Regions from separate parts of the Homo sapiens genome. Here region 2 is linked to region 1. The links come from fine-mapping of genetic effects on gene expression. Tissue or cell type: whole blood. Region 1 holds a variant in brackets; the other region holds the start of a gene. All regions are shown on one strand. Distances are from middle to middle.

Evidence for each region. PIP is the estimated chance that this variant, and not a neighbour inherited with it, causes the effect.
Region 2: CHD1L starts here. The variant in region 1 is fine-mapped to the expression of CHD1L in whole blood (TOPMed, PIP 0.92).

What each region holds. Positions count from the first base shown.
Region 1 is chr1:147,488,482-147,493,701 of GRCh38, forward strand. The region is part of intron 3 of LINC00624 (long intergenic non-protein coding RNA 624); the gene reads right to left. Among named protein-coding and RNA genes, the nearest start is that of LINC00624, 27 kb to the right of the region's middle. The variant G/A (reference allele first, on the strand shown) is at 2,642.
Region 2 is chr1:147,240,082-147,245,301 of GRCh38, forward strand. CHD1L (chromodomain helicase DNA binding protein 1 like) reads left to right here and starts at 2,603. Exons shown (of 23, transcript NM_004284.6): 1 at 2,603-2,749. The coding sequence starts at 2,623. RefSeq lists a silencer at 2,435-3,054.

The DNA of each region.
Region 1 (5,220 bases):
AGAGAGATATAGTATGATAGGCGGGCAGCGTTAGGCCCACTTGAGGTTTGTGGTCATTAATTGAAAATGGGAGGAATAAGCATGATTGTGCTTCTCCACTGCAGTTATTCATCTGTAAAATGGGGCTATCAGTGCCTTTCTCCGTCGGGTTGTTGGAGGATGTGAGGATTAAACATCTTAGTACAGGTAACATGCCTGGTACATATCACTTAATGAGTGTTAATTATTGTCCTGTAGAGTACATTGTTATCTTGTGTACATATCTCTGTTTTGATCACAAATAAGTGGACTCATAGAACTAAAGGTTAAAAATCATCGAGTCCAACCACTTACTTGATAACCTGAATTTCATCTACATCCTCATTCGGCCTTTGTTTGAGCTGCTTAGGGTAGGGCACATATTCTGTCCCAAAGCAGTCATTTCATCTTTGGACATCTCAAATAACTGGAATGGTCTTCCTTCTTTCATAGTGAAATTTGCCCTGTGGTAACTTTCACCAAAACTTACCCATTGGGCCACACTGAAAAAATCATCCTTGTCTATGGTTCCATCTCTCCTACAAACGGCACTCTTCATGTTTGACTATAGAGCAGACAGCATTCTGTGCAGCCGGTCTCAACCTTTTCAATACACCCTCCAACCTTTCCTTCCTTATCAGTATCATTTGCATTTGCAGAAGGAAAAAAAAGTCTATTTTTCAATACTTTCACCCCCTGGAGCCACATTCTTGTTAAAGTGTCTGACTTTGTTACCTTGCTTTTTTCTGCAGAGAAAAGTGGATAATCTGCTTTTTTCTAGTCTAGAACAATTTTCCTTTACTGCGTTTTGTAGAACACTGTAAGATTCTAACGATTGTTTCACTTAAAGACGGTTTAACACAAGCAAATAATTTTGAAAAACTGTAGTCAAAATTGCAGTTTTCTCATGTTGAAATAGCTAACATATACTATCAATTCCCAAAAAGGTAGCTGTAGTGCATTTCCTAAATGTATTTGTTAACAAAACATTTTGTTGTTGTTGCTGCTCATTTCCTGGAACTAGCATTCCACAGAATAATCTTTGGGAAACACTCATTCAGAAAAACGTCTCTTAAACTTAACTAACACATGACATATAAAATGTTGGCTTATATTACATGTATTATAAAGTTGCATAAATATGCACAATCATAAAACTAGGTGTTAACGCCAATCTTTATGCTTATAGTTCTTATATAAGCAACTATATAACTATAAAACCAAATCAATTTATAAAATAAATATAAGTAAAACAAATGAACTTCAAATCGACCACATTAAGTTAATGTGATATGTAATATTGCTTTGTTTAAACAAAATCACCAATGCAGAGTTTATTGATAATGACATAACATATTATTATTAACGGTTCTTTTTTATTTTGTACATGATACACTTGCATTTGAATCAATAATATGATTGCTGATCATTTCAGTTTTTTAAAAAGAAACTCATAACCACAAATTTATTTTTGGATAGGTCAATCAATTAAGGATTCACTTCCAAATAAAATACTATAATTTTAAAAAACTTTTTGAACAAAAAAATTATTGTATATTTATTTTCTTCTGTTGAACTGTATCAAGTTGGTATGAACAAAGAATACAAGTAAAACATTTAAAATATTGATACCATATGAATGTACTCACTATATGCACAGATTCTTTTTTTTTTTTTTTTTTTGAGACGGGGTCTCTGTTGCCCAGGCTGGAGTGCAGTGGAGCCATCTTGGCTCACTGCAACCTCCACCTCCCAGGTTCAAGCGATTCTCCTGCCTCAGCCTCTTGTGTAGCTGGGATTACAGGTGCCTGCCACCACACCCAGCTAATTTTTGTATTTTTACTAGAGATGGGGTTTCACTGTGTTGGCCAGGGTGGTCTCAAACTCCTGACCTCTTGATCCACCCGCCTTGGCCTCCCAAAGTACTGGGATTACAAGCGTGAGCCATCGCACCCGGCCAGATTCTTTAAAGTCTGACATTTCTATTCTTCTGTCACGTGGTTGTGATAGTCGTTCTCCCAGCGCTTTTACTTTCTTGACCTAGTGCAAAACCTTCATTCACAGGACACTCTAGGATATTATTTAGACTTCACTTGGCAGAAATATAATAATAGACGCAAACTCAGGCACTAAAACTGGGTGACCATATTCAGTTTTTAAGATAATTATCTATAACCCAGAAAATTTTTATATTATTTTCAGAAATTATTATAAAAGTGGAACCAATAATGGGAAAATAGAGATGAGGAGCTGCTGAAATGTCCATAATGATCTTTGCAGAGAGTGTGGATTGGCAGCCTCTGTTTTTTTGCACAGGGATGAAGAGAAACAGCTCAGCCGAAGTCTCCAGCACTCCCTTTTCTCCTCTACAGTTCTCCACCCACCCACCGGCCCAAAACACACAGGAAAGAAAACTGTCAGGTATATTTTTACATTCCTCACACCAGTGTGTTTCTTCCATTTGAAGCTGTAAGGCTTTTTAATCTATTATTGTAGAAGAAAGGCTTTTCCTCTCATTAAAGGGAATTCAAGTTCAGACTCCCTGGACTGATAGAGGATTCTGGATTTGGGGCTGGAGAAGATATATACTGTGATTTTCTCCTTAGAATTTAAGCTATAGTTC[G/A]GGATAAAATCTAAGCTAATGCTAATCTAATCTGAACTCTAACCTCCACTTGCAGGTGTAGGGAGTGTGATCTGCCACAAGACACCCCAAGTTCCTTTTTCACAGTGCCCTGTCCCCCGTACCAGAGTTGTCTCCAGCCTTGTGCTTTCTCCCTGCTTGCCTCTCCTGTTTCCTCTAGGGGCCCCCCCTTAGTCCTCCTCACCCTTCACCCTTCCTGCCCAAGGAGGAAGAAATTCCTCTAGGACCATGCTTCTGTGGAACTGGGAAGTGGTGGGCTGGCATGAAAAAGAAATGAAAGGCACCTCATCTAAAGAGAAGCTCAACTCCTAAGAAATAACATGCTTGCTTTTTGTCTTTCAACTCTTGGATGATAATAAACACACTAGGACGTTGAAGATTACAAAACACAGAACGTGGTCTCCAGGTCCACACTGATGATCTTTAACTACAAAAAAAATAGTGGGCAACTCTGGTTCAGCTAAATGGGAATATGTCTTAATGGTTTTCTCTGGATAGTAACCTCTTTCATTTACCTGCATTTCCTAATCTGAAAATCTCTAAGAGGTCAATATTCCACTGAAGTCAGGCATGGAAGGATCCTTGCCTCTTCTTCAAGAAAAAAGAAGGAAAGATAAATAAAACTGCACTCTGGGACTAAGAGCATGCAACTCAGATACTTGATACAAGGCATGCTCCGAATTCCTTTCTGTATAGTAGTGTTCACAGTTTTTTCTTCTCATTTTTACTTTTTAATTTCTTAACTTTTTTCTCAGTTGTTCAACAAACGTTTATTAAGCCCCTTTCATGTGATGGGCTCCCTGCTAAGTGTTTCCGGATTTAAAGAAGAAAAAGATTGGTGCCTGCCTTCGAAGGACTTTCAGTCTAGAGACAGACACTATACTATAAACTATAAATAGCCAAGTTAACAAATAATTTGCAATACATAATCATTCCTTAACTTGTTCAGAGCTGGTATGCCCATCTACATTTCCTTTATTTTTTATTTTCTGTTATAATCTCCACAGAGCAAGGCTCACCCTGGCCTGCCCAGGTTCTGCAGAGCTTGCTTACAATCTTTCAGAGAAGAGCATTCAGCATAGCTGCTTTTGATAATGAAGATATGGAGCTTTATATAATGACAACTGATCCATCTATAGATTGCAAGCTCTTTGTGCAGGCCTGTGTCTAATTGTCCATTTTGTATAGCAGCTAATCCACTGGGAAAATACCTTAAGTGTTTAAAAAAAAAAAAATGTGTAGCAATATTCCCCTGCTGCCACCTGGTGCTTTATTTACACTAAGTTACACTCTGAATTCTAGGTAAGGCAGCTTAAAATCATTTACCACACTCAACTATAAAATGAAATCCCAGCCCCTCAATACACACGCAAGCACATACAAATACATACTGATCACACATACATACACTCCTTCATTCCTTCCATCTCTGCTAGCCCAGAGCAGACATTTCTTCATGTTTTGAAGAAATGCTACTATGATAGCCAGAATTGAATCTTGAGAACTATGTTCAGTTAAGACTAGAGAATAGGACTAAGATAGTGTAATTGAAAAAACTTTCTGCTAGGCCGGGTGCGGTGGCTCACACCTATAATCCCAGCACTTTGGGAGGTCAAAGCAGGTGGATCACCTGAGGTCAGGAGTTCGACACCAGCCTGGCCAACATGGTGAAACCCCATCTCTACTAAAAATACAAAAATTAGCTGAGCATGGTGGCATGCACCTGTAATCCTAACTACCCGGGAGGCTGAGGCACAAGACTCCCTTGAACCCGGGATGTGGAGGTTGCAGTGAGCCAAGATCGCACCACTGCACTACAGCCTTGGAGACAGAGTGAGACCCTCTCATAAAACAAACAAACAAACAAACAAACAAAATATAACTTTCTTCTTTCTTCTGGATGACAAAATTGTGTGCTATACTGACGAGCCTGTGTAAAGAGTTAATGAAGCAGGCCGGGATCATCAGCTGTCAGTTAATTCATCATGAAATATTTTTGAAGACCCATAATTCAAAGCTCTGGAGAATCAGTGGTGAGCAAGAAGAATACCTTCTATGCTCAAAAGGAAGTTATATTCTAGTGTGGAGAGTGCTGTTAAGCTCCTAAACAAATTTTTAAAAATCAGGCAGGAGTAAGGGATAAAAAATACATAAAATATGGGGCTATGACTCAGGCGCTGCTTCCGTTAGTGGGGGCAGGGATGGCCCCTCAGAGGAGGTCACATTTGGGACTCGAGGCAATATTGATCATGAGGAAGACAGCTGTGTTAAAATCTAAAGGAAGAGCATTTCAGGCAAAAAAATGACAGCACAGGCCCCACGAAGAGAAAGACTTTGGTATCTTCAGGGAAGGCGGGAAGGCCGGGGTGGCCAGAGCAATGTGAGATGAAGGAGGGGTGGGTGGAGAAAGACTGGCTGGTGAGCGTGGGAGGGTTGGAGCAGGAGTGCCAATAGATTAGGGATTTGATTTGGTTCTGTAAGCAAAGGCAAAACCACTAGAGGGATTTAAGTAAGGGGGCAACACAATCTGTGCTGCTCTTCTGAATAATCACTCTGAAGGA
Region 2 (5,220 bases), 250 kb before region 1:
TTAGCATTAATCCTACCTTGTGGGGAAAAGAAAGAGAGCTCAGACTGCTACTGTGTCTGTGTAGAAAGAAGTAGAAATAAGAGACTCCATTTTGGTCTGTTCTAAGAAAAATTCTTCTGCCTTGAGATGCTGTTAATCTGTAACCCTACCCCCAACCCTGTGCTCCCTGAAACATGGGCTGTGTCCACTCAAGGTTAAATGGATTCAGGGCTGTGCAGGATGTGCTTTGTTAAACAAATGCTTGAAGGCAGCATGCTTGTTAAGAGTCCACTCCCTAATCTCAAGTACCCAGAGACACAATACACTGCGGAAGGCCGCAGGGACCTCTGCCTAGGAAAGCCAGTTATTGTCCAAGGTTTCTCCCCATGTGATAGCCTGAAATATGGCCTTGTGGGAAGGGAAAGACCTGACCGTCCCCCAGCCTGACACCCATAAAGGGTCTGTGCTGAGGAGGATTAGTAAAAGAGAAAGGAAGGCCTCTTTGCAGTTGAGATAAGAGGAAGGCATCTGTCTCCTGCTCATCCCTGGGCAATGGAATGTCTCGGTGTAAAACCCGATTGTATATTCCATTGACTGAGATAGGAGAAAACCACCTTAGGCCTGGAGGTGGGACATGTGGGCAGCAATACTGCTCTTTAAGGCATTGAGATGTTTATGTGTATGCACATCAAAAGCACAGGACTTTTTTCTTTACCTTGTTTATGATGCAGAGACATTTGTTCACATGTTTTCATGCTGACCGTCTCTCCACTATTACCCTATTGTCCTGCCACATCCCACTCTCTGAGAAATGCCCGATAATGATCAATAAATACTAAGGGAACTGAGGCTGGTGCCAGCGCAGGTCCTCTGTATGCTGAGCGCCGGTTCCCTGGGCCCACTTTTCTTTCTCTATACTTTGTCTCTGTGTCTCTTTTTTTTCTTAAGTCTCTCATTCCACCCGACGAGAAATACCCACAAGTGTGGAGGGGCAGGCCACCCCTTCACTACCTGATTTTTATTTATTGCTTGTCTCCTCCTTTTAAAATGTAAGATCCAGGAGATAAGTGGCCTCTATCTTCAGTACCATAGAGTGCTTGGCACATAGTATGTAATTCAGTCAGTGTCAGGCCTCTGAGCCCAAGCTAAGCCATCATATCCCCTGTGACCTGCACGTACACATCCAGATGGCTGGTTCCTGCCTTAACTGATGACATTCCACCACAAAAGAAGTTTAAATGGCCCGTCTTTGCCTTAAGTAATGACATTACCTTGTGAAAGTCCTTTTCCTGGTTCATCCTGGCTCAAAAAGCTCCCCTACCGAGCACCTTGTGACCTCTCACTCCTGCCCGCCACAGAACAAACCCCCTTTGACTGTAATTTTCCTTTACCTACCCAAATCTTATAAAACGACCCCACCCCTATCTCCCTTCGCTGACTCTTTTCGGACTCAGCCCACCTGCACCCAGGTGAAATAAACAGCTTTATTGCTCACACAAAGCCTGTTTGGTGGTCTCTTCACACGGACGCGCATGAAAGTCAGTATTTATGAATGACTCAAGACACAAAAATAGCTTCATAAAACAGTGCTTTGCTTGAGTTTTTATGAATAAACCAATCTGAAGTCATCCCTTTTCTAGCTCAGAACAAATTTCTCCCTTTTATTTTAGAGGAAGATGAGAATGGAGGGTACAAATTTAACATGAGTTTACTGAAGAAGGAAGCACCAAGATTAACCTAAATGAGAATACTATTCTAATGACATTAGCCAGAGAATAATATCGTTCCTGTTCCAGTACTGCCAATTACCATTACAAGTCCCAATATCTTCATTTACAATGTGGGGACAATTATAACACCTAATTATTGGTTATTGTGAAGGTTAAATAAGAAAATATACTTAAAGCCCTTAGGACACCACCCAGAACTTCATCAATAAATGCAGCTATTTTGTTATTATCATATTTATATTAGTGGTATACTACATCATAAATCCACTCAAAGCTGATGCTGAGTCACGGTGACCCCTAACTGAACACATTGCCTCAATCTGCTCCCCATAATGCACTTGAGATACCCACTGCCACAATGACGTCTTTGGTGATTTTAATTTACTACTATTCAGAGGTTCCCAATTTTGGCCTACAGGTCACAGGCAGTAAGAAAGGGATTTCAGGGACTAAATCAATTTATCACTAGGTAAACCGAACAAGAACAGTTTGATCTTATCGTGAATCACTGGAGGGCACGGAACAAGTCTTACTTCTAGAACCCCCAGGGCCCAGCGGAGTGTCTGACACATGATAGTCGATGTTGATTAAATAATAAATGAATGATGAACACATGCCACCTCCTTGACGGGCAGTTCAGGCAATCAGACGTCCTGTGCGTGATCAGACGCCTAGCGCTTCAGAAGCACGACTGGTGAGAACTGGGCAGCCCTTCCACGCTCCGCACTGCAAGAACTGCCTGTCCGGAAGGGTGACTGCACCAGCTCCGCTCCGGATATCTTGGCAGGACGCGCCCTCTGGCGGCGCCTCGCTCGTAGGTGGGCCCCAGCGCGCAGTCGCGCGCCCCCGCGCGTTGGGAAGTTGGGAGGGAGGTGCGCGCTTGGCCGCGCGGGGCGGGGCCTCTACCGGCCCGATGGAGCGCGCGGGCGCTACTAGCCGCGGGGGCCAAGCCCCTGGCTTCTTACTGCGGCTTCATACTGAGGGCCGAGCCGAGGCGGCGCGGGTGCAGGAGCAGGACTTACGGCAGTGGGGGCTGACAGGTGAGCGGGCTCCGGGCGGACTTCGGCCAGGCGGGCCAACCTATTGGGACTGCCTCTTGCGGGCCGGGGGCGCAGCGGGTGGGCCGCCCGGTGGGCAGTTTACCCGCTCGCGCCAGGGCCTTCCTTCGCTCCTGCCGTGGGCGGAGAGAAACTGCGCCCGGGCTTGGTGGCCACGGCCCCCGCCTGCGCGGCGCGCGGGGCCGGCGGACGCCAGATGAATGAGGTCGCGGGCCCGGTAGCCAGGCCTGGCCCCTGGCCTGTGGAGGGGAAACGTGGTGAGATCAGCGCCACCTGCAGGCCTCCGCTGAAGAGTTGGACGGCCTGGTGCACCAAGGATGTAGGTTTCCAGTTGCTGTTCCGGTGGGTTTGGGTCCCGGCCTGGGGAGTTTATTGGTTGCTTCTGTAAAACGATCAACTCATCTCCCAGCTTCAGCTTCTCCGTTTACTGTGCGCGCGCAGTTATTGGAGAATTCGCCACGGATTAATTCTCCGGATCGAGTTACGTGCGGTAGTGAGCGGACAAACTCAAGCAAAGCACTGTTTATGAAGCTATTTTTGTGTCTTGAGTCATTCATAAATACTGACTGAACCACGTACTATATGCCAACTTAGCTTGTCCGCTCACCACCGCACGTAACTCGATTTATTGACACTAGCCCTTACGGAGAGTCTGCAAAGCGCGAACCTTGCATGCCCCCCAGCCCTGCCGCTGCATGGCTGACCGTACTTCCTGCAGCTCCGAGACCCCGCTCTCCTCCTGGGTCTGCGCTGACTCGCCGCTGAACCGCCCCAGCCTCGTTTTCCTTACTTATAAGTTGGGAACGTAGTGTGTGCTTTGACTGTATTGACAGAATCATGCATCAGTAATAATACAGTCGTTTATTCATTACTTATTGAATGCTACTGGGAGCGTATTCTTAGGCATTGGCTACAAAGATGAGCAAAACAAATAGGGACCCTTCCTACCTAGAGTTTTAGACTAGTGAGAGTGCATTTAAAAGTATAAACTAATTTATTTAAGTGCTCAGTACCACGAAAGAGTAAGGTTTGTCATTCTAGGAATGAAACAAAAGGTGCAATTCTGTGTTCAGCTTAGAAGACTGAAAGATGAAGTTGAATGGAGAGGACGCTGACATGAAAGAGAAAGACCTCTCTCCTTGATTCCCTGAGTCTGTAAGAATGTGTGGCTGTAAGGAGTATGTATCCAGTTTTAAGTATGAGCTTGTAGACTGGTCTTTTTATGTTTGACTTTATCTTAACGAAAGTTTATGTTTGTGGGTTTGCCTATTTCCTTGCAAGTGTTGGGAATGGTTCTTTAAGAACTTGTGTGAGAGAGGGCTCAGAAAAGTGTGCCAGTTGATACTTAGCTGTGGATAATATGCCAGGAGAAACGTACATATGGGCAAGTGTTTTAGTGAAAATGAGGAGACAAGAGGTTGCAAGTTTGAGTGGATGGAATGGAGTGAGTAAATTCAGAATTAAGTAGGCAAATGTGGCAACTTGGATAAATTGGTAGTGGAGAAGGAAAATAGAAAAGCAGAGTCAAAGGAATGGCTACTGAATATTATAACTTGTAATTTCTATTTCTGTTTACCAGAATAAACTAGTGTTATGAGAAACTATTCTTCATGAGTTGGTTAAAAAAATTCTTACTACTTTTTTTTCGTTTGGTTACAGAAGTAGTACGTATTTTCAGTAAAACATTCAGGGAAATAGCCTATGCATAAAGAAAATAAATATTAATCTCCATAATCTCCTTACTGTTAACATGTTCTCTATCCTGTATAATTTCTTTTACTTTCTGGTGGAGGGGGAAGGTGAAAAATGGAGTTTCATGTACATTTTTTTGGGAAATCATAACTTTTTTTCCTTATCATTCAGTCTTCTTCAACATCATTCTTAATGGTTACAGTTTTTCAGTATATGGATGTACCATAGTTTAGACAGTCCCTCTTCTTGGTATTTAGGTTCTTTTTTTTGCTATTGTAAGTAACATAAATATCCTTGTAACCAAATATTTATTATAGGTATGGACGTTTAATTCCTGAAAGGTACCATTTCTAGAATAAAGAGTATGCAAAATTTTTGCTTATTTCTCTATACTCTCAGCAACACTGGTATTTTCTAATTTGAGAAGTTAATATGCTATCGTATTGTTTAATTTAATGTTTATTTGGTTACCAATATTGATGGACATTTGGATATTCATCTTTGGATCATGAAGTTACCTTAGGACCTTTTTGTTTCTGGAATATGCAGACCTATTACTTCTTGCTGTTTTGCTTGCTTTTTCACTACTTGTCATCTCCCTGACAGAAGGGCAAAAGAATCTACATCTGGAGGTTAAAAAGCTAAAGACTACCTTTCCCAGACCCCACTGTAGTTTGGTTGTAAACGTGACTTGGCTTTAGCCAGGCACGTGACTGGGAGATTTGGAAGGGGAAAGTGAGGGGAAGGACACAGAGGGGTTT